Linked DNA regions of Homo sapiens: regions 1, 2, 3 and 4 are each reported to be linked to region 5. The links are microRNA targets in miRTarBase. Many come from high-throughput screens and were not tested one by one. Region 5 holds a microRNA gene; each other region holds the end of a gene's coding sequence. Distances are from middle to middle.

Region 1 (5,106 bases), not on the chromosome of region 5:
ACAGACGGGGTTTTCCCATGTTAGCCAGGCTGGTCTTGAACTCCTGACCTTAAGTGATCCGCCCGCCTCGGCCTCCCAAAGTACTGGGATTACAGACATAAGCCACACTGCCCGGCCCACTACAATAAAGTTTAACGTTGATAATCCTAAGTGTTAGTACTAAGATGTGGAGCAAATGGACCTCTCATACATTGCTGATGGCCGTGCAAAATGGTAGATCCACTTTGGAAAACAGTATGGTGGTACCTTATAAAGTTAAACATACATTTACCATATGACCTAGCAATTCTACCCCTAAGTATTTACTCAGAAGAAAACATGGGCTGGGCACAGTGGTTCACACCTGTAATCCTAGCACTTTGGGAGGCCGAGGTAGGTGGATCATCTGAGGTCAGGAGTTCGAGACCAGCCTGGCCAACATGGCGAAACCCCGTTTCTACTAAAAATACAAAGAAATTAACCAGGCATGGTGGTGGGTGCCTGTAATCCCAGCTACTCAGGAAGCTGCAGCAGAAGAATCGCTTGAACCTGGGAGGCGGGGGTTGCAGTGAGCTGAGATTGCACCATTGCACTCCAGCCTGGGCAAAAGAGTGAGACTCCATCTCAAAAAATAAAAAAAGAAAAGAAAACACGTACTCACAAAATTATATGCCCAAAAGGTATTGGCAGCATTACTAATAATAGCCCCAAACTGGAAGCAACTCAAATGTCCATCAACTGGTGAACAGATAAACAACATGGTGGTATGTCTGCACCATGGAATACAATTCAGCAATAAAAAGGAACAAAACATTAATACTCACAACAAACTGAATCTCAAAAACATTACACTAAGTCAAAGAAGTCAAACACCAAAGACTACATATTGTATGATTCCATGTATATATGCAAAAATTTTCCAAGACCAAATATTTGAAAGGATTATCCAGGCTTCACAGAGCATAATCACTTAAGATTTTTATTTAAAGGCAAAGGATACAGGGCAGCAAGAGAAAGACTAGGTAGGTAAACATCAGGAATCTCAGAATTCCCAAATACAAGCTCCCCATGGTCCTTATGCACATGTGGACTGCACTGCAAAGTGCCTTTGGATTGAATCATCATGATCTATGTGAGGCATCCATCCTGGTTTTGGAAGAGCTCAAATCAGAAGTTCCCAGCAGGGCTTTTATGTTGCTCTGGCCATGTAATCAAGCCAGACATACGTAACTGGTTAGACCAGCTGCAAATAATCAATAAAAGGAGTGACCAGTGGAGCTTCAGACTTTATTTATTTATTTACTTATTTATCGAAATGAAGTCTCTTGCTGTCGCCCACGCTGGAGTGCAATGGCGCTATCTTGGCTCACTGAAACCTCCACCTCCCAGGTTCAAGCAGTTCTCCCGCTCCAGCCTACTGAGTAGCTGAGATTACAGGCACCTGCCATCATGCCCTTTTGTACTTTTATAGAGATGGGGTTTCACCACGTTGGCCAGGCTGGTCTTGAACTCCTCCTGACCTCAGGTGATCCACCTGCCTCAGCCTTCCAAAGTTTTGGGATTACAGGCGTGAGCCACCGCACCTGGCCGAGCTTCAGACTTTAAACAGCACATTATAAATCCCAATGCCTTTTTTTTTTTTTTTTTTTTTGAGACAGAGTCTCACTCTGTCACCCTGGCTGGAGTGCAGTGGCACAAAACGGAGTCTCACTCTCTTGCCCAGGCTGCTCACTGCAGCCTCAAACTCCTGTGCTCAAGTGATCCTCCTGCCTCAGCCTCCTGAGTAGCTGGGACCACAGGCACATGCCAGCGCACCCAGCTAATTTTTTTTTTTTTTTTTTTGGTAAAGACCAGGTCTCACTACATTGTCCAAGCTGATCTAGAATTCCTGGGATCAAGTGATCTTCCCACCTTGGCCTCCCAAAGTGTTGAGATTACAGGCGTGAGCCACTGTGCCTAGCCTATTTTCTATTTTCTACATCTTGATGGTGACTATACTATTATATACAATTATCAAAATTTATTAAACAATATATTTAAAATTTATGAACTATATTGTATGTAAAGAATAACTCCATAGAAAAGAAAAAACCTTTCATTTAGAAAGGGCATCATGCTACATTTACTCTTCTGGGATTAAACTTTTTTCACTTAATTATTTTATTGCTCAGATTCATCCATATGGTTAGGTATCATTATAGTTCATTTGACAATTGTATAATGTTCTATTATGTGAATATTCCAGTTTACTTGTCCACTCTCTTGCTCATGGGCATCTGGGTTATTTCTAGGCTTTTGCTTTTGTGAATAGGGTTGCTATGAATATTCTTGTACACATCTCCTGGTGTACATGTATGAGTTTCTCTAGGATTTATCCCCAGTATTGGATTAACTGGGTTATAGGGTAGCTGAATGTTCAATTACAGCAGATAAACTGTTTTCCAAAGTAGTTCTCTGCTTTTCTTATCTAGGTCTGCCTGTCCCCAATTAGATGATGACTCTAGAGGCAGGGGACCCTCTCATTTTGAATTACCACTGCTTAGCATTCAATTAGCACTAGGCTGGATATCCAGGAGTCCAAGGGCAGAAGCCCAGGCACCTGAGGCCTCTTAGCCTCAGCGAATACTAAGTACTATACAGAGTGAACAGCATGCAGGGACCATATGCCACGCACGGAGGCGGTTACGGTCCTACTCAGAGCACTAGCCATGCTCCTTAAAGCTCCATCTTCCTAGCTTCACCTGATTTTGAGTCTCAGAGATCTTCCAGGGCCCTCAATTACAATGCAAATCCCAAAAGAAGGCTTAACCTCAGCTAAAGTCCCTCCTCAACTGACACCTCTAATACCCAAATAAGGATGAGCAGGAAAGACAGAAGGGACAAAAAGAGTGGCAGGAAGAGGAGGAATAAGGAAAGTGGAAAAGCCAAGAAGCCTTCAGGTATTCTAAAATTATATACCCTTTTCTGCACAGGATGTTTTCCAGGAAAAAAAAAAAAAGTTTAAAAATAAAATATCTGCAAGTGACCCTGAGCAATTTTTTATATCCCTGCCACTAAAGGTTACTTTCTTTTGGCTAAAGTTACAAAAACAACATATCGAGTATGCAGTCAGTAAATGATGAAATCTTGCCCTGAACACAGTGTGTGCAGTGAAGCCCTGTGATGCTGAGGGAAGAGTTAGGGATTAGGGGGTGGGCCAAAGAACAGGCACCAGAGCTCAGCTGCAGACTAGAAACAACAAAAAGTCTGGAATCCAACAAAACAAAACATCAGGAAATTCCTAGGTGTTCAGAAAGCAAAAGGAGAGTTACCATTCTAAAGGATGAGGAAGCCCAGTAATCTCCCACAATCCCAACTGCTACATCTCCAAGAGCTCCCTAGCTACCTGTCATACACGAGGTCTGGGAATACCTGCTAGATGAATGAACAAAGAACAAGGCACGCACAAGAGTATGACGGTTTTGTGGCAGAAGCAGCCTCCTAAGCCACATTTGGGCAGCAGTATTGTTGACAGCAGGAATGGCCAGAATTATTCAGCTCAGAGGGTTTTTCCAATGTGAGTAGGTAAGCAGATTATTTTGCACTGGCTTAACATTTTTAGTTACTTGTTCCTTAAATTAGATCATGAGCCATATGGAAAAACCAGGCGGGCTTAATTGAGCCTGTTGGCTGCTCAAGACTGGTCAGGTGGAACTCACTTCAAGGGTGACAGGGGCTCAGTAACTGGCTGGTACAAATGGAACTAATGGCATTTGCACTGACATGAAGTCCCCAACTGCAGCCCCAGGTCTATAGAGTTTCAACAACTTTATTGGCCAAATGCTTCTCCTATGTTTACAACTTAGTGTGAGCCTGCTCACTGGCTTCTCCTTCTAAGCCCCTAAGCGGGCAGCAAACTTTAGTACAGGCCTGGAGATGGGGTAGGGGTTAATGAGTGAGTTGGAAACCTGCTGATGCTCCACAATTGGACAGCAGGACAGCAAATCTTCTACTTCTTATTGCCGAAAACTGCAGAAAGACACGAACAGGATGGAGACAGGACCGAGAGTGCATCTCTGCCACTGGTCCCAGTTTCCAGTTTCTGGTGCATCCAACAGAGTATACCCTTTGTATTCTTGCTTCAGGGATTGGGTGATACTATGTCAGCCTACGCATTTTGCAGAAGTACATGGGGCCAAAATTGGCCATGAGGTTTGGTATTACCAGCTCCCCAACCTGACAGGATGAGAAGAAACAAAATGTGTCCATGAAAACCCTTCGGAAGTGAGTCAGATCTTCCACCTGTACCTGGATGCTGTATTGATTGGCCAGGAGCTCAATGGCACCTTGCACCACATACTCGTTCTGTAAGTGTGAGAGTGAGCAGGTAGAATAGACAACATGGCCTCCTGGTTTGGTGGCAAGGAGTCCAGCCCTGAAACCAGAAAGAGACAGAAGCAGTTACTAGTGAGCTTCCCAGCAGTAGAAGAGCAACATAAGGAGCTGGAAACATGGATAAGGGAAGGCTACTACAGGATGGGTAGCTGGTTAGACTGCCTCTCAAGTCCCTTCCACAATGACACTGTCTGAAAAGTCACTCTCAAGGCAGATAGCAACCCAACCTTACTCCATGAGCTCTTCACTAGGAAGTCTCCTTACAATGACCCCCTGAGCTCTTGTTTATGGACCAAATTGCTATGCTGGCTATAGAATGAGTCCTTACTCTAGCAGCTATTTTTCAAACATGTGCTACTCACTGGTACTGAGGATGAAATAGCATGAGTCAATCTGTGCAGCCCACTCTAGTATATATATCCTACTAGATAGGGTTGCTTTTTTGTTTTTGTTTTTGTTTTTTGAGACAGAGTCTTGCTCTGTTACCCAGGCTGGAGTGCAGTGGCACGATCTCAGCTCACTGCAGCCTCCACCTCCTAGGTTCAAGTGATTCTCCTCCCTCAGCCCCCTGAGTAGCTGGGACTACAGGTGTGCATCTCCACACCCAGCTAATTCAAATAGGGTTTTTATGTTCCAGAGATGATCCCATTTCTGTCTCCTCTAGGCAGATCTCCAGCCATAAGATTCTTGTGTGGGTTATGGTCTTGGTAAGAGCTTCCAGTCCCCCAGTCTCCCAGAGCACTCTGGCACAAA
Region 2 (5,101 bases), 60 Mb from region 5:
CAGTAAAGTAGAAAGTGACAAGAGACTTACATATTAAAAAGATTACGTGACTCAACCAGCCTTGTGGAGAATGAATTAAAGACAGATAAGGATACTTACAGCAATCCAGTGAGTGATGGTTGGGGGCAGGAACCAATAGGTCATCTTGCAAACATCAAAGAGGATTTAGCTCTGAGACATATTGAAAAGTTGAAAGGGCCTGGTGACCAATTGGGTGATGAAAAGAAGTATTGGGTTAAATTTTCCATTTATGAAAAATGAAGATTTAGAGCTGCATGTTTTAATGCAGCTGAAACTGAGCACGATCACTATTTGGGTCTCGATAATTCATTGTGGTGGTGGGCTGTCCTGTACATTCTAGGATGTTTAGCACCCATTGTTTCTACCCACTGGATGTCAGTTGCACCACTGTTCCCCTATCATGGCAATCAAAAAATGTCTCTAGATATTGCCACATGTCCTCTAGGAGACAGAGGGCAAAATCATCCAAGTTGAGAACTGACAACCTGGAAGAAAATGGGTTCAGTCCTGGACACACTGAGTATGGGGTACTTGTGAGACATGTGAGAGGAGATGTCAGATTAGATTTGGGCTTAAGTATTTGGTGCCCAAAGCAATGGTCTGGGCTGGTAACTTGGACTTAGGAATTCTGAGCATATAACTGACCTGTACTACACAATGGCCTGAAATATAAGCACAATACACATTTACCACACTATAACTTCTCAAACTCTCCTCTTCGGTGAAATGCTCCCAGCTGCTTTTCCCTCTTGTTGACTTTTATGTCAAGCTACATAGAGGGGGAAAAGAGGGGCCAGGAGGTGGTAGGGGTGACCAGATATTGGATTGAGCTACTCTAAGCATCTAGTTTAAGAGATGGAGGTCTGAGATCAGTGAGTACTTGAAGCTCATCCTGGCTCATAATCCTCTTGTCTTTGTCTCTTATCAAGGCCTTTGTATTGCTCTGGCATCTTCTCTTAGCCCCTGTAGTTGGTATTTAGTTCGAAAGATCTGGAATTCTTAGAACATTGATAACATCTTATAACATGGTATAAACCTTTTTTTATTATATAACAATACTCTGTGACGAAGAGACTATATCCTTGATGCTGAGAACTTTGGAGAACGCTCACCTATTAATTCTGTCAATCATAAAAGAAAAGAACCCCTAAGAAGAGCATAGAGGTACCTGATGAGACCCCTAGTGGCAAATATCTCCTAAAAAGGGATGAGAGTCAATGTTCAAGTTCATTTCTACCAACCTGAGTGATGGCTCTCTTGCTATGATGTAGTTACAGCAGGGGGTGGAGCAAATATCTCATTAGGCAGATTCCGGGCAATAGGTGAAGAGGGGATTCTGGCATCTATGATGATGAAATATAATAGTGGCAGGCACAGACTACAAACTTTTTTGAGCACTTTCTATTTGCCAACTGCTTCTGTGCACGTTAATGAAGGAAAGCACAACTTCAGTTTATTCCACAAGATAAGGTATTTGTAAACAATCATCCCCTAATGCAACGTGTTTATTCAATGGCTAACAAGCTTTCTGAATATATTCATTGAGGAAGAATAAGCCAATTGTTCATCAGATTTGAGCATCTGTATCCTCCCTAAACTTGAATCCTCCATGATGCCTCTTGAAGTAACCCAAACAGATGTGCATCAGAAAGCAAGCTGAAGATAAACAGCTGTTTCTGTATTATACCCAGAATCAACAGTAAATTCCACTTGATGTAAGTCAGCCTGTAGAGATCTAATGAAGCTTAGCTCTTCAGTGGGGTTTCAGTTTGAATTTGGGATTGCCATTGAAAAAATGTCAGCAGCAGTGTTGTCAGTTTCTTTTTTCTTTTTTTTTTTTTTTTTTTTTGAGATGGAGTCTCTCTTACCGCCTGGGCTAGAGTGCAGTGGTGCAATCTCAACTCACTGCAACCTCCACCTTTTGGGTTCAAGCAATTCTCTTGCCTCAGCCTCCCAAGTAGCTGGGATTACAGGCACACGCCACCACACCTGGCTAATTTTTGTATTTTTAGTAGAGACGGGTTTCCGCCATGTTGGCCAGGCTGGTCTTGAACTCCTGACCTCAGGTGATCTGCCTGCCTGGGCCTCCCAAAGTGCTGGGATTACAGGCATGAGCCAAGTGTTGTCAGTTTCTATCGTGGAACCTACACATATTCAGATATGCGGCAATGGTGACAGACAACAGTAAATAAACCATGTGTACATAATAAGCATGAAAATGTGAAATTTCCTTTGACAATCAAATCTTCCCTCCAAAGAACTTAGTTTTTTTTCCCCTTAAGTTTCACTAGGTGTTTACCCTTACAAAACTCATCAATTGCAGTTGGACAGACTTTTTTTCTGTATTTTTCTTGGTCTCCTCCCCAACCCTCTTACTTAGGACAGTATTATTCTGCTAGGACTGCCATAACAAAATGCCACAGACTGGATGGCTTCAACAACAGCAGTTTATCAACCGAAGTTTATTTTCTCACACCTTTGGGGGCTGAAAGCCCAAGATCAAGGTGATTGCAGGGTTGGTTTCTCCTGAGGCCCCCTCCTCGGCTTGCAGACGGCCACCTTCTCACTGTGTCCTCACGTGGCCTCTCTGTGTGCCTTCCACCTAAGTGTCTCTTCCTCTTCTTAGGACACCAGTCCTAGGCCAGGTGCAGTGGCTCATGCCTGTAATCCCAGCACTCTGGGAGGCCGAGGCAGGTGGATCACCTGAGGTCAGGAGTTTGAGACCAGCCTGGCCAACATGGTGAAACCCCGCCTCTACTAAAAATACAAAAACTTAGCCAGGCGTTGTGGTGCACGCCTGTAATCCCAGCTACTCAGGAGGCTGAGGCATGAAAAGTGCTCGAACCTGGGAGGCGGGGGTTGCAGTGAGCTGAGATCACGCCACTGCACTCCAGCATGAGTGACAGAGCAAGGCTCCATCTCAAAAAAAAAAAAAAAAAGGGAAAAAAAGGACACCAGTCCTACAGGATTAGGGTTGCATTCTTATGACTTCATTTAACCTTAATCACTTCTTTAAAGGTCTTATTTCCAATTACAGTCACATTAGGGGTTAGAGCTCCAACATATGAATTTGACGCAATTCAGTCCACAACAGGTACCACCTGTATTCTATCTCTTTCTTCACTCTCCCCACCACCACTCTGTCTCTATTCTCAGGCAGGAGTATTATAGACGCATTTCCATTACTTGTAAACATGTACACATTTGTTAAAGGGTTAGATGCATTTAAGTTGGGCATCAAGCCGCAGGCCAGGAAAGAACTCTAGTCTCTACCACTAGGCAAAGTCATAGATCTCAGGAGAGAAAAAGAATTGGAATTCCCAGGTTACACAGATCGGAAAGCAAGCAGCAGGATAATGTGATGAGATTATAATTTTAAATCCAGAGATAGAAAAGTAAAGGAAGTTTCTTTCATTTTCCTGTCATGCATATGACCCTTTCTTTATTCAAAAGTATCAAAAAGATAGGCTGGGTACGGTGGTTCACACCTGTAATCCCAGTGCTTTAGGAGGCTGAGGTGGGAGGATTGCTTGAGGCCAGGAGTTTGAGACCAGCCTGGGCAATGTGGCAAGACCCCACCTCTACTAAAACATACAAAATAAGCCAGGTGTGGGGGGTGTGAACCTGTAGTCTCAGCTACTTGGGAGGCTGAGGTGGGAGGAGATCATTTGAGCCCAGGAGGTTGAGAATACAGTGAACTATGATCATACCACTGCACCCTAGCCTGGGTAAGAGACTGAGACCTTCATCTCCAAAAAACAAAACAAAACAAAACAAAACAACCACAAAAACAATTATATGTACATATAAGATAACTGAAGAGAAATGCCAGATTCTTGTTATGAAGTCTCCTCAAGTTTCTCATGGAGATTTATTTGGATGGGCATAGCCTACCTCCCAGAGTAAAGTTTGGGTCTCTCTCTCAGGTAGGCATTTCCGATGCCCTAGAATCCATTCCCAGTGGTCTGGCATTGGGTAAAGAGGGGGTGCCGCCTGGAGTGCTGCCAGCGGGCCACAGCATCACCCCAATGCTCCAGGCCAAAACTCTCCATCACAGGCTGGTGTCGACCAGCTGCCCAGGCTGTTGAAGCACCTGCTTCCTCCTGTTGATAGCATTCAGAACTTTCTTCCTGGGACCCAGCTGCATTTGTATGCTCTGAAGGTCCTCATCAGAGCAGAGCAGCAGAGCTTCTAGATCAATCTGCTCTCTCTTGAAGATAGGCAGGAATTCTTCCAGGTGCTGAGACAGCAAGAACACTTCCAGGGGCGTGGCATCGACCACATCTTCCTCCCACTCCACTTCATCGTCATCCCACGGCAGATCATCTTTGAGGCCGTTTTCCTCTCCCTCTTCATCAGCTGCACCCTCATCAGCCTCTGATGCTCCTTGTCTTTGAAGCAATTCACTGGGCAGTTTAAAACCAAACTCTCTCTTGCTATCTGAGATGTCTTCAGGACTCGATATCCTGTTCCTTCTAAAAACAATACTTCCTAGACCTGGACGATTGAGAATGGATTCATGGTGCACACTGCCGTCCTCCTCTGCTGACAACTGGAGCTTCTCTTTGAAGTCCCCTGAGAACGAGTCTTCCTCTTCCTCTCTGAACACTTCCATCACGTTCCTCTGCCCACTTCTGCCTTCCTTCCCCACCTGTTCTGCTGTATCTTTGTTCTTCTTGAACTTGATCTTGAAAGTGTCTTTAATGCCCTTAGATAGTGACCCGAATGTGCCAGGAGCAGAAGCATTTGAAGGGGATGATCTGGAGAAGGTACCCTTGGAAGAAGAGAGAGTCCCGGATTCCTCCTTGCTGTAGGTGTGGGCCATCTTATTTTGGTGCTTCTCCTGGAGCCTCTCACACTCTTTGATCTGCCTCCTGGCATTCTTCTGAGCCTGCTCCTTCAGCCTGGTGACCTTCTTGGGGTTCATGATGTTCTGTGCAGTGGCAGCCTTGTCCAGGAGAGCAACACATTCATTCTGCTCCCTGCTGGCAGCAGCATCCAGTGGAGTCTGTAAGTCATTATCCAGGGCAAAGATGTTGGCACCAAAGTTGACCAGGAATGAGACGCAGTGGGCATGGCC
Region 3 (5,106 bases), not on the chromosome of region 5:
TAATCCACTTTCTATCTCTATATATTTGCCAATTCTGGACACTTCATATAAATAGTATCATATAATATGTAGTCTTTTGTGACTGGCTTCTTGCACTGAGCATATTCTGAGTTCTTCCATGTTGTAGTATGTGTCAGAAGTGTTCACCACTCTTCTACTTTTTGAAAAAGTTTGTGAAGAATTTGTATTAATTTTTCATTAAAAGTTTTGTAGAATTCATTTAAGAAGCTATTTCAGCCTGGGCTCTTCTTTGTGGGTATCTTTTCAAAAACTCATTTAACCTATTTACTTGATATAGGTTTATTCAAGTTTTCTACTTCTGAGTTGGTTTTGGTAGTTTGTGTCTTCCTAGGAATTTGTCCACTTCATTGATAATTTATTGACATAAAATTATTCATAATATGCCTTCATAATCTTTTTTATTTCTACAAGTTCAGTTGAAATGTTCCCTCCTTCATTTCTGATTTTAGTAATTTGATTCTCCTTTTTTCCTGGTCAGTCTAGCAGAAGGTGTGTCAGTTTTACTGATCTTTTTATAGAATCAACTTTTGGTTGCATTGATTTTTCTCTACTTTTCTTCACTCTATTTCATTTATTCTCATCTAATCTTTTATATTTCCTTCTTTCTCCTGGCTCTAGGTTTAGTTTGCTCTTCTTTTTCCAGGGTCTTAAGGTGTAAAGTGAGGTTAGTGCTATGGTCTTTCTTTTCTTTTTTTTTTTTTTTTTGAGATGGAGTCTCGCTCTGCTGCCCAGGCTGGAGTGCAGTGGTGCAATCTTGGCTCACTGCAAGCTCTGCCTCCCAGGTTCACGCCATTCTCCTGCCTCAGCCTCCCGAGTAGCTGGGACTACAGGTGCCCACGACCACGCCTGGCTAATTTTTTGTATTTTTAGTAGAGACAGGGTTTCACCATGTTACCCAGAATGGTCTCGATCTCCTGACCCCATGATCTCCACCCGCCCCGGCCTCCCAAAGTGCTGGGATTACAGGCGTAAGCCACTGTGCCTGGTCTTTTTTCTTCTTAAGTACAGGCATTTGTACCTATAGATTTCCCTGTAAACACTGCTTTAGCTGCATCTTGTAAGTTTTGGTTTGTTGTGTCTTCATTATCACTCATCTCAAAGGGTTTTGTAATTTCCCTTATGATTTTTTTCTTTGACACATTTTTTTTTTTTTTTGGTAATGACAGGGTCTTGCTGTGTTGCCCAGGCTGGTCTTGAATTCCTGGTCTCAAGGGATCCAAGGAATCCTCCCACTTCGGCCTACCAAAGTGCTGAGATTTCAGGCGTGAGCTACTGCACCCAGCCAGTCACTTACAAGTGTGTCTGATTTCCACATATTTGTGAGTTTCCCAACTTTTCATTGTTTTCTAACTTCATCCCATGTGGTCAGAGGGCATGCTTTGCATGATTTCAGTCTACTTATATTTATTAAGGCTTGTTTTATGCTTTAACTTATGACCTATTTTGGAGATGTTTCATATGCACTCGAGAAGAATATGTATTCTGATGTTGGGTGGAAAGTTCTATAGATGTCTTTTAGGTCAATTTGCCTTATAATGTTGTTCAAGTCTTCTATTTCCTGGTTTATCTTCTGTCTAGGTGCTCTATTATTGAAAAAGGGGTATTGAATATTCCAACTCTTTTTATGGACTTATCTGTTTCTCCTTTCCTTTCAGTTTTTGCTTCATGTATTTTGGGCTCTACTGTTAGATGCATATATATTTATAGTTGTTACATCTTCCTGATGTATTGACCCTTTTATCATTGTAACATTTTACTCTTTATCTCCAGTAACATTTTTTTAAGTCTATTTTGTCTGGTATTAGAATAGCCACTCCAGCTTTCTTATGGCTGTTGTCTGTGTGATATATTTGTTTTCCATCCTTTTACCTTTAATCTCTTTCTATCTTCTAAAGTGTGTCTCAAATAGATGGCATGAAGTGGAATCAGACTTGTTTCTGACATCTCTGCCTTTTATAGTATTGCTTAATCCATGCACATTGTTATTTTGATATAGGAAGACTTATGACTGCCATTTTATTGTTTTTGATATGCCTCAAGCTTTTTGCTTCTCCATTCCTTCTTTTGCATTATTTCATAATGTGATATTTACATTTAATAATATTTTTGATTTTTTAAAAGTTATTTCCTCAGTGGTTGCTCTAGGGCTTACCATACACATCTTAACTAAACAGAATAGGCTTCAGATAAACACTAACTTAATTCCAATGTAACAACCCTATTCCTATATAAACCCATCCCCCGCTTTGTGGTATTATTGTTATATATGTTATTCCTATACATTACAAACCCAACACACATTATTATAATTACTTAATATAATTTTACATCTTTAAAAGAAGCTGAGAGAAGAGTAAGTATATGTTTATAGTTTTTTTATATTAAACTTATTTCCTATTTCACGTTCTCTCCATTTGTTCCTGTGGATTTGTCTTACCATCTGGAGTCAGTTCTTTAGTACAAGACAGTTTTGCTTCCACTCAGCTTCTTCAACCTGTTATCGGCAAATATATTATATTTTATACGTTATAGGCCAAACGATGCAACTATATACATATTGTTTTATACAACTGTGTTTTACATTAGTTAAGAGAAAAAAGAAAAATGCATAGATTGTTTCTGATAATTACATAATTATTTTTGCCTGTGCTCTTTTTCTGCATGTGTGTAGATTCAGATTACTGTCTGTGGTCACTTGCTTTCAGGCTGAAGAACTTCCTTTTGTATTTCCAGCAAGTCAGGTCTGCCAGCAACAAATTCTCTTGGTTTTTGATTATGTGAGATGTTTTATTTCACGTTCATTTTTGAAAAATAGTTTTATTGTATATAGGATTATTGGTTGACAGTTATTTTCTTTGAACACTTTGAATGTGTTATTCCACTGCCACTGCCATTGTTTCTGAGGGGAAGTCAACTACTAATTTTATTTGGGTTCCTTGGTAAGTGATGGCTCATTTTTCTCGTATTGCTGTTAAGATTTTCTTTTCGTTTTTGGGTTTTAGCATTTTTCTTATGATGTATCTGTCTGTAATTTCTTTTTCTTCTGGGATGTATAGGTTAATGTCTCTCATCAAATCGGGGGTATTTATAGCCATTATTTCTTAGAATATTTTTCTGCTCCTTCATTTCTTTTCCTTTTTTCCTGTACTCCCATTAGAAATATGTAGGAATGCTTAATGGTGTCACACAGGTTCTATACTCTTGTTCAATTTTATTCATTGTTTTCCTTTCTGTTCTTCAGCCTGGATAATATCTCAGTTCATCTTCACAACCCAGTGAGGTAAGTAGCATTATTATCCTCACTTTATAGATGAAAAATGTGAGGCTCAGATTAAGTGACTTGCCAAGGTCATAGAATGTTAAGTGTGGCTGTACAGGTCTGACTCCAGTTTGTACTACTTCCTCTCTGTATATTGTTTTTTTATTTTCCAGCAACCATAAACAAACAACTGGGGGATTTGTGACTGGCATCCTCTTTTCTAGAGAACGCTTTATTTCCATTTCCGTTTGGCATTCTTTGCTTGTATGTTCCTCTTCTAAAATTCATATGCCTAATATTTAACATATATTAGACACTTAATCAATGTTTATTGCTATGAATTCAATGATACTCAATGGTTGCTAGCTTAAATGGCTGTGAGAACACCAACATTTTGATCTAAAATATTTCACTAGAAAAATATATAGCTTTTTGAAGACTGATAACTTGTGGAGGAAGCATTCATTAAATAAGTCAACTGACTTATGAAACTACCTACTATTACTGCTGATAGTTCTGACTTAATAGCATTTGTTGATGCTTAGGCCTGGGGGTCCTACTCTTTTATTTACTAGGTGGATGAAATATGGCAAATGGGCTCTAGTAAAGAAATATTTCAACATTTAATTAGTTTTTTATTTCTGTGTATACGAAGCAGTCTAAGAAAGAATGTTATCTCTAGAGACAAATATTGAGGACCCCAGAAAAATTATAAAGATTTTTAAAAATCCTTAGGAATAATCCGTTGTAATTCATCCTGAGAAAATAATACTCTTTGCACTTTACCCTTCATACTCAGCATATCATCTGTCCTATATAGTCTTCAATTATATAATAGAAAATGTTTTCTACCAGTTCTCTCCAAAAGCTGAAATTACTTTTTTCCCCTCCCTCAGTTAGTTTTTCCTCTTCAACTCCAAACAAACTGGTGTCTATACATAAATCCTAGATCCAAGATTCCAATTCAAGAAAGACCATCCAGGACCCACAATTTATATATATTCTAGCTACCACTAATTTCTGTAGTGCTACCTGTAGCACATGATATGAGAGAAGTCGCTTGGAGATTTGACCGTTGCTTTTTGTTCTTTCCAAACTCTATCACCAATATTTTCCCATGTAGTTTGTATCCATTTACTAGATGCAATGCTTGCCATGCTATCTCCTTATCTAAAAGAGAAAGAAAAAATTTCAATTTACATAGGACTTAATAATTCAATTCTATTCCAGGTTTAGTTTAGATTATTTTGCCTTGGAGTTAAATGTAAGCTATAAGGCCATATAGTCATTTGATTTGATCATTTTTTCTATAATCTCCCATTTGCATTATTAAGCAAAATTAAATTAATGGCAAAAATAATAACAATAAAAACTCAAAATCGGTGTTTGAGGGTGTCTCCTAATTCAAAGAAACAAGTAGAGAAACAAAGACATAGGCAGCGTGCTAAAGAAGTCTAAGCTATTAGTAATTATACACAAGTCTCTATCTTAGGTAACAGATTATAGGTATTATTAGAATCAATCATTTTCAAAATGAGTAACACAAAAGAAGTTATCATGTTATCAAGGGCACTTTGCCACTTTTTTTTCAGTGGGAGAGTGGTTCTGGGCCACCTTATTGGGATAAATAAGTATAAGAACACTTGTAGGCATATTGAAGGTTGAAATGTGAGAATATATACTACATGCCAGGAGTATTCAACTTATGGGTCTAAGAGCCTGGATGTAAGAAATAAGGAAGGGATGATTTGTGGCCAGGAGTTTGTGGAATCCTAAGTAGACAAGTAGACTAAACCAATTTTGTTTCATATATATAAGTACTACAA
Region 4 (5,106 bases), not on the chromosome of region 5:
GCGACCATTGATTTAAGATTGGGCCTGTTCCTTAAAGCACAGGTGTCCCCTACACCTCCTGTGCCCCCAGGGAAAGCCCTTCAGGAATGGTTAGCCATTGCCCTTTCTTGCCACAGTGTGCCAGCTGTCACTTTTCTCAGGAGTGGTCGATGGAGTTGACTGCTACCTTAACCAGATTTGCCATCGTTCTGAAACTGCCGTGTGTTTTCTAAGGACAACCAGGTGTTAAGCCTTTCTCTTTAGAAGAAGGACAGTAACCTTTCTGTGTAAGTCCAGAACTTATCAATGCTGTATGAATGATTGCATTAAAAAATGTTAGGTTTAGCCCCACTAATTTATCTCACACTAGTTGTAGTGCAAATACTACATGCTGTCTAAGGAAGCAACTTCTTGTTTCATCTGCATATTGGTTCTTGATTTTTATGAATTGTATAATTTGTTTTACATCAAAGCCACATCTGGATGCTTGATTGTTACTATCTTGGTCAAAAATGAGACAGCCCATTTTTTAATTGATTTGAAAAATGTAATAACCTAATTATATAAAAGTAGGCATAGCCATAGACTAAATGAAAGAATGCTATTTAATAAAATTATCTGTATCCTTCCGAATCACTAACCCTGAATATCATCCATGAGGACTTTTTTTCCCATTCAATGAAGAATTTCATATACTCTGATTGCCTGCTCTTCATTTCTGGAAGTTACTTATGGTTTGGAGTTTTTAGTGTCTATATTTGGGGATTTTATTTCTTTCTTGCTTACATTAACCTGTCAATGCAGGAGCAGGCCTTAAACAATTGCTAATGATACAAAAAGATGCTAACAATGTTTGAGAGGCAAACTAGAAGATAGGAAATTAGTATTTTGGTCTTTTTTAGTTGTGTTTGTATGTGTTTGTGTTTTACACAATGTCCTTTATTACCTGTGCTGTTGCCTGAGCACACTAAGATTTGGTTGTAGTCAGAAGACATTATTCAAGTTTATTTAGTACATTTTGTGTATTTTTCTTTCCAGTAAAGAATTGAAGAAAAGTTAAGAGCTGCCGAAATGCACAGAGGTGAAAATGACAAACCAAATGGAATTTCTCTTCAGAGTTCAGAATTTTCAGATACTAAGGAGGAAGAAAGGATCCACTACTTCTTGTTCTTATGAATGACTCTAGAAAAATCAGAATCAAGTTGTGGGTGGAAAAATCAACGTGGCCTTTGAGTTCAGTTGTTATAAACCATTGTGACTATTGTTGGTCAAAGTATTGGTACTTATATTGTTAGTAATTGCATCATAATTACATTACCAGTGTTGGAAAACTAATGAAGAAAACACTGTAATTGCTACTCAGCAAATGTGAATAAAAGGTGTTTGCGTTATTAGGATGTCTGTTAAGTAATCATTTAATATTATTATATTGGTAATGGTTGTATGTGTGATGCTATGCCCAGAATATGAAGTATCTGTTTTTGAAATTCACTTTATTTAAAAGATAAGCAGCTGACTGGGCACGGTGCCTCATGCCTGTAATCCTAGCACCTTGGGAGGCTGAGGCAGGTGGATCACCTAAGGTCAGGAGTTCAACAACACCAGCCTGACCAACATGGTGAAACCCCATCTCTACTAAAAATACAAAAATCAGCCGGGTCTCATGGCAGGCACCTGTAATCCCATCTACTGAGGCAGGAGAATTGCTTGACCCAGGAGGCAGAGGTTGCAGTGAGCCAAGATCACGCCATTGCACTCCAGCCTGGGGGACAGAGCAAGACTCTATCTCCAAAAAACAAAAAAGATAAGCAGCTTTAGAATATGGCGCATTCAAAACAGTCTCAGTAACAAAGACATTAAAAGAAAACAATTTACTTTCTAATTAAAATTTTGTGTTTCTTAAGATCAAATCATATAGGTAACTTCATAGACCTAAATTAAAAGTGATTTTTGGCTGGACTGGCAACAATGTTCCCAATGTCTTTACTTTTTAAAAAAGGCTTTTCATATTTAAGCACATACCTATTTTGTAGACTTACATTGTTTAATATTTATTTTAATCTTAATATTTTTACATTATTATATTGCATTATTTATTTTTTCTAAGTTCCAGAATAATAGTGTCATTATTATAGACTATATGTTTTGAAGTTTGATATTATAATGGGATATTCATTTTTTGTTCTTTTCTTGACTCCTTTCTCAAGTGTGTGATAAGGTCTGCTGATAAAATATTTAACCCCAAGAAAGTGAAAACTAATATAAAATTAGAAAGACCTATCCAAATTAGACAGTCAATTCCATTAAAATAAGAAGTGAGAAAAACAATGTTGGGCATTGAGGTGTAAATTTTGCCCAGATGTATACCCAGTGTGAAATATCTTCTAATAAAAATATATTTGGCTCTTATCCCTGCACATGTAGAGGCATAAAAATTGGTAAACATGTCCCGCTGTGTAGAACTTTAAAAAAAAGGCATTTTTGAAAGTGTTGAGTGGCACTGATAACTGGTGAAGCCTACAGCCATCCGCCCAAAAGTCTGTTCTGATGGCACTGAGTTTTCATTGTTCTGGATGTATAAGTCTGTGTGTCAGGTACAGCTGGGCCCAGCCAGCTTGAGTCACTCTTGTACAAGCTTGTTTTTTTCTGTCTTGTGAATGCACTTGATAATTTAAAAATAAAAATATCTGTTTCTCTGCAGTTTCAGCTAATAATTTTGAGATATGTGTTGATTTTCTGATTGAATCACCAAGAATTTCAACAAGTTTAGAAATAATTTAAGATGAATGAAAAATATGTCAGGGGGAGCTAAGCATTTGCTAAGCTCTTGATGTTTATATGAAAAATAAAGGGTTGTTTTTATATTGCAACTACTAAAGAGAAAAATAGCAGTTGAAGCAAACACCAGGAAAATTTGGCTCTACTGAAAGCCCAGTCCTTTTCCCCTTTGTCTCGCTGACAAAGTAAGACTAGGGTTATGTTCATGAATAGATTAATAAAAGATGTTTCTTTACCACACAATCTGAGATGAGATGGGGTGGGGGAGATCATGACAGTGCCCTCCAAGCAATAGATCCAGCTGATAATCAAGCAGAAAATCAGACACCAGAATCCATTTGATGATGTACGGCATTAAACATTTCCTTATAACAAATTGGGTTTGTTTTATCTTTATTCTGAAAGTACTGAATTTTATCCCATGTCATCTCTTTTCTCCAAACAAGTAACAATTTGACACTGTCTTCTTCTATATCTAAATAATATTTTTAAACCATTGTTGGAAATGCACTGCCCAGTTATTCATCCAACTCTGTCTTGAAGATTAATGTTTCTTCAGTATTGAAATGATACTATGTATAGGACTTGGAAAGCTAGAATAAAAATCAAGTTTTTAAAAGATTTAAAACATGAAATATTTTACACAGTGAATGCAAATTTATGTTTAAAATGCATATTTTAAATGAAATCAGTGCTTTTAAATGGCTAACGCTTGGTACTTCTGAAATCTTGTGCAGGGTTTCTATCACATACAAATGAATACTTGACCTTAATATTATCTTTAAATTATAGAAGAATTTAATTAAAGAAAGATGTCTTTAGGAAGCTCAGCAAGACTATATTTGAGAAATAACTTACCATTTTATAGCTTCATGTGACATGTTGTCACTTTAGTCATATATTTAGCCACAAATATTTTTAAGAGTTAGGAAGTTCTAGAAACTATAACAAAAGTTTGTGACCTTACACTTCTATGTGTATTCAAATGATTTCCATCTGATGGCCATATCTGTTTAGTGAATTATGGAAACACTTTTAAGCAATCCAAATGTTTTAAGCTATATATTTGTTCGTTTCTATTTAATTGAACTGTACCGAAAATAGTCCCCAAATCCTCACTTTATTATGTACATGACTTCATTTACTCTTCACATCAAATCTATGAGATAGATAAAATCTTCCCTGCTCTAGAACTAAGGAAACCAAGTTCTGAAGGTTAAGTAACTTCTCCAACTGCACAACTCCAGCCACTGCTAGTTGCAAATGGAGATATCAGACTCCACTGGGTGATCTGTAAAGTACTGGATCTCAGTTGCTGTGGAGAGGAAAATGCTGATATTTGGACATGACAACACACACAAGAGTAAGGAAGCAGTTGGCATGTGCCTATGACCACACTCAGGGACTAGAAACATCTCAAATGTTTGTCATTCAACAGTGACCTAAATAAAATAAAATATATCTGAGTGAACTTTTTTTAAAAAAAACTGATCATTTGTTTATCATAATTATTTTAGTAAATCTTTACTCCATACTATAATTATGTTTCCTTAAGAAACAGATTCTGTAGAATCAAACTAATTACATGTACAGTAACATTTTATTCAAGAAACCGAAAAGGCGCCATTCCAGTCATATATGAGAGAATAAAAACATCAAGAAGCATGTCAATCAAAAGGCTGTGTTGACTGGAGAACTCATTCTATGGATGGACACAATTATATGCAGGAGAATTGAATGTCAGCATCATTTAGGGTTAACAATGGACTAACTAGGCAAAAGCAGACAGCTACTCTCTGCCGAGGCCCAGGAAGCAAACTTGGTAATGAGGCACTTCATTCTTCATATCCTTCTGCTCTAATTATTGTGAATAGGAAATACTTTAAGCTAAGGCGGGAACTGGATAACAAAAACATTTGTTTTGTAAACACAAAGAATGCTATTTTTCTAATGATCCCCTTCAAATCTACATCAAGCATATGTTGTGAGCAGTGGGTTTTCTAAAGTTGCTCTTCTAACACCTCAAATTCATACTGATTATAGATGGGTTATTTTCGTCTCGAAAAGCTAGGGAGGCTAATGCTGCTAAGAATCAATTTTAGTTTCTCGTCAATCTAAAAAAGGGATATGTACACCACACATAATTCATGTTCTACCTCTTATCACTTAGGTCAAAATGCTCCAATACATACTTCAGTGTTATTTCTAAAAGTACTAAGCAATATGATTTTTACTCACTGTAGTTCATTTCTTCATAAAAATGATTTGAGCCCAATGAAAGAATAGAAGAAAATTTAAGAATGGTTTCCTTATAAAACATTTATGTAAGTAAACTCAAATATTGCCAAT
Region 5 (5,106 bases):
TGCACACACCACACACAGAGATACACACTATGCACACCACATATAGACACAGGACACACACACATGCACATACCACACACACATGCACACACAGAGATACATGTGCATACACACCGTATACACATATACATACCACATATAAACACACATATCAGGCACACACATGCACACATACCACACACACCACAGACATAGACACATACACACTCACAGAGACACACATGTGTACGCACACACATGCAGACATACCATACACACACACACACACATAAACCATACAGACATACATACACACACACCACAGTCCCACACGCAGGACTGTGCAGGTAGTTTTGGAATCTACCATGGACCACGGCTTAAGGACCCAGGTCTAACCCAACCTTTCCTCCACTGCCACATTTCCACTGGGGAAACCAATGCATATACCACACACACACCCAGACTTGCTGGGGTCATCATTTGTGTCATTTCCAGGTCTCTTCCCTCCGGGCTCCTGGCAAGCACACAGGCCAATGCAACGAGCTGATGTCATGCTGAAGTGACCCGTGGCCCGCGCGTGGGAGCCCCTGAGAACCCGTGCACCGCTTGGCACACTCCCTTCCCCCACTGGCCCATGGTGGACACACAGCACAAGTTAGAAACAATGCCGTGCCGCTTCCAGCCACCTAGAATGCGTGGTCGCTGGTGACTGTGGCAGCACCTGGCCTGCCCTGCTCTCAGACTGGCTTCCATGCAGCGTGTACTCCCCCACCAGGAACATTCTGCTGTCACCCCCTTCTCTCCGCTGCCCGCTGGACTCCTACTTACACTTCAGGTCCCTCCTGAAATGCCACTTCTCCAGAATGACTGTCTTGATGGTGCCTTCCCCTCCCCATCCCCAACCAAACCAGGCCAGAATGCCTCGCCTAACGCATCACACTGTCCTGGAATCGCCTGTCTAGTTGTCCTTCTTCTGCAGGCTATGGGCTCTGGGAGGTCAGGAACCACGTCTGACTTAGGCACCACTGTGTCCATGAAACCCGGAGAAATGTTTGTTAAGTGAAAGATTGGTTGAAGTGTTGAATGAATGAATGAATTGGATAGATGGAGACATGGATGGATGGAAAAACAGATAAGACAGATGGACAGTCTGATGGATAAATGGATGGGTGGGCGGATAGATGGATGGATGAATGGGGCATTCATATACCCATTCTGCTCAGCGAAGAAAGTCCACACACAACAGACCTTCAAAAGAACTCTTCAGCTCTGATTCCCTCTCTTCCCCAAACTGTATTTGACTAAGACTCTAAAAATGATCATGGCAGTGTTTTCTTGAACACCTACTAAGTACCAGGCACAGTGCTAAGTATTTTACATGTAATATCTACGAGCCTCACAATATGCAAGGAGACAAGTATTAGAGTGCGTTTCACAGATAAATTAAATGAGCCCCAGAGAGGTTCTTCCTGCTGTTTAGGGTTCCACAGCTAGAATGTGGTAAAACCTAGGGTTCCATGGCTAGTTAGAGTCTAAGGATCCAGAGCTAGTGCCCAGGGAAGTTGGGCAGGAACTCAGGTCTGTCTGACCCCACAGTCTTCCCTCCCTGCAATCCAGCCCTGGAACATGAAGCAATGCATCTGAGCTCCTCTGGATTCCCAGGACTTGGGTTGGGACATCCGTGAGCATTATTTCTCCATGGTAGCTGCCCTACTGATGAAGCAGGAGGAGGAAGGATGTGGCACGCAGGAGACCTCACCTTGAAACTAAGGGAAGCGCCAGAACTTGCCTCTAGGAGAGCAGGTGGAGGCTGATGGAGCCAAAAAGGTTGGGACAAGGCCGGACTGTAAACTGCTCGTTCCTTTGGCTTGTCTACTTTTGAAGGAGGACATACGCTGCTAGGCAATGTCTTGAGTCCCAGCACAGGCATCTCTAAGGGGCTTCCAAGCAAAGGGAAAGCTGACCAGGCTGCGTTCCAGCTGGGGGAAGGGTCACGCTTCTGTGCAGAGTCCCCATACTGTCCTGCTGGTGGCTGAGCCAAGAGAACTCAGCCCAGTGGGAACATAAGGCATGGCTGGAACCCCGAGGGTCACTCTGAGGAGAATCCATTCAGACCTGGGAAAGGTCCCCCAGCCCAACCCTGAGGGTCACTCAGAGGAGAATCCATTCAGACATGGGAGAGGTCCCCAGCCAGACCCCAAGTCCCCCGGAAGCCTGCGGGCAGCTGGTTCCAGGCTTCCGACTTCTGGTGTTAAATCTTTGGAATGCTGAAAGGGCCTGGTTCCAGGCAAACGCTGCCCAATTTCCTCTCCCAAACTTGCCAAGTTCTTTCTCATTGTTGCATTGTCTTGAGAGGTGAGAAAAACAGCCCAGGGTGCGCTGTGAGCGACCTTTTCCAAGCTCCCCTTCCCCGGCCCAGTTTCTTAGGGAAAAGGAGCTTCCTTTCTTACTGGAAGCTAGAGAGTGAGACCTTTCTGGTGCTTTCCAGACCGGAAAAGTCCTGCTTGCTACCTTCCAGTAAGAAAGGAACCCACCCCGTCCCTGCCCTGCTGCCAATGTTTGGGGTAAACAGTTGCCCCGCCTCCTGCAGGACTTTCCAGAACATTGGTGAGAAGAGCCGAGTCCCGGAACCCATCCCCGAAAGAAGCAGACACTCTTGGGAGGAGGGTCTCCCTGCTCTTATCTTGCCTGAAGCCTTGTTTGTGGAGCAGCGGCTCTGTCTAATTTTTGCTGATGGGCAGCCACTCAATTTTTAGGCAGAATCCCCCAGAAGATGATCTGCGCCGCGCTGCTCTTTAATGCCTGCTACCCCATCCCAGGGGCCAGTGACAGCACCTTCAGGACGTTTTCATGACACTGTCTATGTACTTACATGCTTGGCCTCCCCACAATGAAATGCTAGCAGAAAGGGCATCAATGGAGGAAATGGGATAAACAGGCCCTTTCTGCAACGAGGGATTCTAATAACATGGCAGTGAGGGAGCTCACGCTGAAAACACAAAGCATCCAAAACACACCAACTGGACCCACGCTGGAAGGCTGGGCGCCTCTGTCTGCCAACTCAACCTGCTGGTAGATTGCTCTGTCTCTGAGCTGGGGATGAGGGGCATGGGCCTGAATGTCCTCTCTGCCTTCCTTGAAGGATCAGGTCAGCTCCCCGAGGTCTGCAAGAGGCATTGATTCAAATTCTAACAAAGTAAGAGTTTTACAAAGAGCTCCTTAGAAGACAGAGAGAGCGGAGGAGGAGGAAGAGAAGAGGGGAGAGACACACAGAGAGGACTGGGGGACAGGCTCAGAGGTGGTGAGAGGCCTGGAGGAAGGACCTGCAAGAGAAGCCCAGAGTGAGCCACAGCAAGGACTAAAGAGAGAGAAAGAGGAGAGGCAGGAGGGGACAGAAGGGGAAGGAGGGGAGAGAGATGGAGAAAAGGCATGAGAGAGAGGAAAACAGACACACATGGATGCAAAGAACCTGAAAGAGACAGAGATGGAGAGAGATCAGGCAGGCTGGGGTAGGGAAGGGGCACTAGCCCTCTTTGGGCCCCGCCATTCCCCTTGTCTGTAGAGAGAATGGCTGTGCTGTAATGCAGCAGGGTGCAGACTGCATTACAGCACAGCCAGACTGCAAGATCGAAGAGCCCCCTGTGATCTGACGTGATTCGCCCCAGGAGGGGCTCAGGTGCCTGCAGTATGAGGTCAAAATGAAAAGGCCTCGAGGTCAGCACTGCTCCACAGAACTTCGTGTGTCAATGGAAATGTTCTTTATGTGCGCTGTCCAACACAGCAGCCTTTGGCCATGTGTGGCCCCTGGCCACTGGAGGTGTAGCTAACGGGACTGAGGAACTGTGTTATTAATTTGATGAGTAAATTAAATCCATCTGTGGGCTGCCATGCGTGGCTGCTGGTGGCTGTGCCGGGCGGCACCATTTAAGGCACTTTCACTCATCTGCTGACTAGGAGCACTAAGGTAATGCCGTTCAGATGGGCACCTGGCTGTTTCTTGGTCCCCTCTCCCACCCTGGAGCAGGGAAGATCTGTCCCCAGGGCCAAAGGGGTTGTTCTCTGTGACACCACGGCTCTGGGATCTAATACAGTATGTTGTATGTGAATCAAGACAAAGTACAGCCTCTCAAAGCAGAGGGTCCTGCCACCCGTCACAAAAGGCACGTGAATACAACCAGGACTGAAGAAAGCCCTGAGTACCACACCAGGGGCCAAGTGCACCCCGCCCCAGCCTCCCTAGAACCACACAGACTCGCTAGCCCTGTTTATAGAATGAGCCAGCTACATACCACCCATGCATCACGGTGGGCAGAGTGTGGGGGTGAGGATGAGAGGGAAGCAAGGGAGAAGCCGATCCAGGTCTACCTCCCCTGACGGAAATGGCAGCCAGGGAGAGAACCACAGCCGCCAGGGGCAGGGGCTGCACCCACCTGGGTTCCCCTTGGGGGAAGGGTTGGGAGGCCGTGTCTGCTGCTCCCTCATTAGCTCGGAGTCCGGCTCTGGATCTGAGGAGTTGCAAGCCGCCTCCTCCTCCTCCTTTTCCTCTGCTTCCTCCTCTCCTGCTCCTGCCTCTGACTGCGCTGTCCACGGGATCAGGGGGCAGTGAGCAAGTGGGATGCTGGAGCAGCTAGAGGCTCCCCGCCCGCTCGGCTCCTCAGCACCACGGCGGCAGCTCTGTCCTGAAGCCCTGCCAGACACGGCGGCCAGGCGAGTCATCACAGCTGGGCCCGCGGCCACAGCCGGGTTAAAGGGACATTCCAGGCACTGCTTCTCTGCTTTTCAGCCTCACTGCCCCTCCATCCCTGTGGCGAGTGATGCTCTGGCCTCCTTTGGAGGCCAGGGCTGCCCCTCCAGCCCCAGAAGGAATGAGGCCCCTTTGCTGGTGGAGCAGGAAAGTGGAGGCTCAGGGCCTCCTCTCCTCCAACTGGAATGTTTCAAGGGGCTCCCTCCTGCCTCTCTGTCATGCACAGATCTAGGCCCCTCTGCCCTGCCACCACACTGATTCCTCTAGTGTCCCTCTACCCCTTCAGAGCTTTCAGTGGCTGCCTATTGCCTTTGGAAGAGGGTCTGAGGCTTCTTCACTTGGCTGGCAAGGCCTGGGTGATCTGGCCATCGCCCAACAGATCT

The links. Region 5 holds the annotated microRNA hsa-miR-6504-3p (CAUUACAGCACAGCCAUUCU, at 3,544-3,563, opposite strand). A microRNA usually pairs through its seed, bases 2 to 8, with sites in the 3' UTR of a target mRNA and lowers its output. Matches are read on the target gene's strand: a 7mer-m8 pairs with bases 2 to 8, a 7mer-A1 pairs with bases 2 to 7 and ends in A, and an 8mer does both.
Region 1: the mRNA of NSUN4 is a reported target of hsa-miR-6504-3p. Seed matches in the 3' UTR shown: 7mer-m8 at 2,399-2,405, 7mer-m8 at 1,913-1,919, 7mer-m8 at 1,540-1,546 and 7mer-m8 at 1,410-1,416.
Region 2: miRTarBase lists ANKS4B as a target of hsa-miR-6504-3p. Seed matches in the 3' UTR shown: 7mer-m8 at 3,052-3,058, 7mer-m8 at 2,123-2,129 and 7mer-m8 at 1,988-1,994.
Region 3: the mRNA of RBM41 is a reported target of hsa-miR-6504-3p. Seed matches in the 3' UTR shown: 7mer-m8 at 981-987.
Region 4: the mRNA of AHI1 is a reported target of hsa-miR-6504-3p. Seed matches in the 3' UTR shown: 7mer-m8 at 1,326-1,332, 7mer-m8 at 1,516-1,522 and 7mer-m8 at 1,654-1,660.

Annotation. Positions count from the first base shown.
Region 1 is chr1:46,360,857-46,365,962 of GRCh38, reverse strand. NSUN4 (NOP2/Sun RNA methyltransferase 4) reads right to left here. Exons shown (of 6, transcript NM_199044.4): 6 at 945-4,393. The coding sequence ends at 4,117. Among named protein-coding and RNA genes, the nearest start is that of NSUN4, 23 kb to the right of the region's middle. RefSeq lists a silencer at 1,060-1,260.
Region 2 is chr16:21,249,792-21,254,892 of GRCh38, reverse strand. It overlaps ANKS4B (ankyrin repeat and sterile alpha motif domain containing 4B), which reads right to left. Exons shown (of 2, transcript NM_145865.3): 2 at 1,043-5,101. The coding sequence ends at 4,073. Among named protein-coding and RNA genes, the nearest start is that of ANKS4B, 19 kb to the right of the region's middle.
Region 3 is chrX:107,063,244-107,068,349 of GRCh38, forward strand. It overlaps RBM41 (RNA binding motif protein 41), which reads right to left. Exons shown (of 8, transcript NM_001324242.2): 8 at 1-4,450. The coding sequence ends at 4,284. Among named protein-coding and RNA genes, the nearest start is that of RBM41, 53 kb to the right of the region's middle.
Region 4 is chr6:135,281,559-135,286,664 of GRCh38, reverse strand. It overlaps AHI1 (Abelson helper integration site 1), which reads left to right. Exons shown (of 29, transcript NM_001134831.2): 29 at 1,018-3,133. The coding sequence ends at 1,020. Among named protein-coding and RNA genes, the nearest start is that of MIR548A2, 45 kb to the right of the region's middle. RefSeq lists an enhancer at 3,751-5,106.
Region 5 is chr16:81,609,844-81,614,949 of GRCh38, reverse strand. It overlaps MIR6504 (microRNA 6504), which reads right to left and starts at 3,602; the gene lies at 3,542-3,602. The region is part of intron 2 of CMIP (c-Maf inducing protein); the gene reads right to left.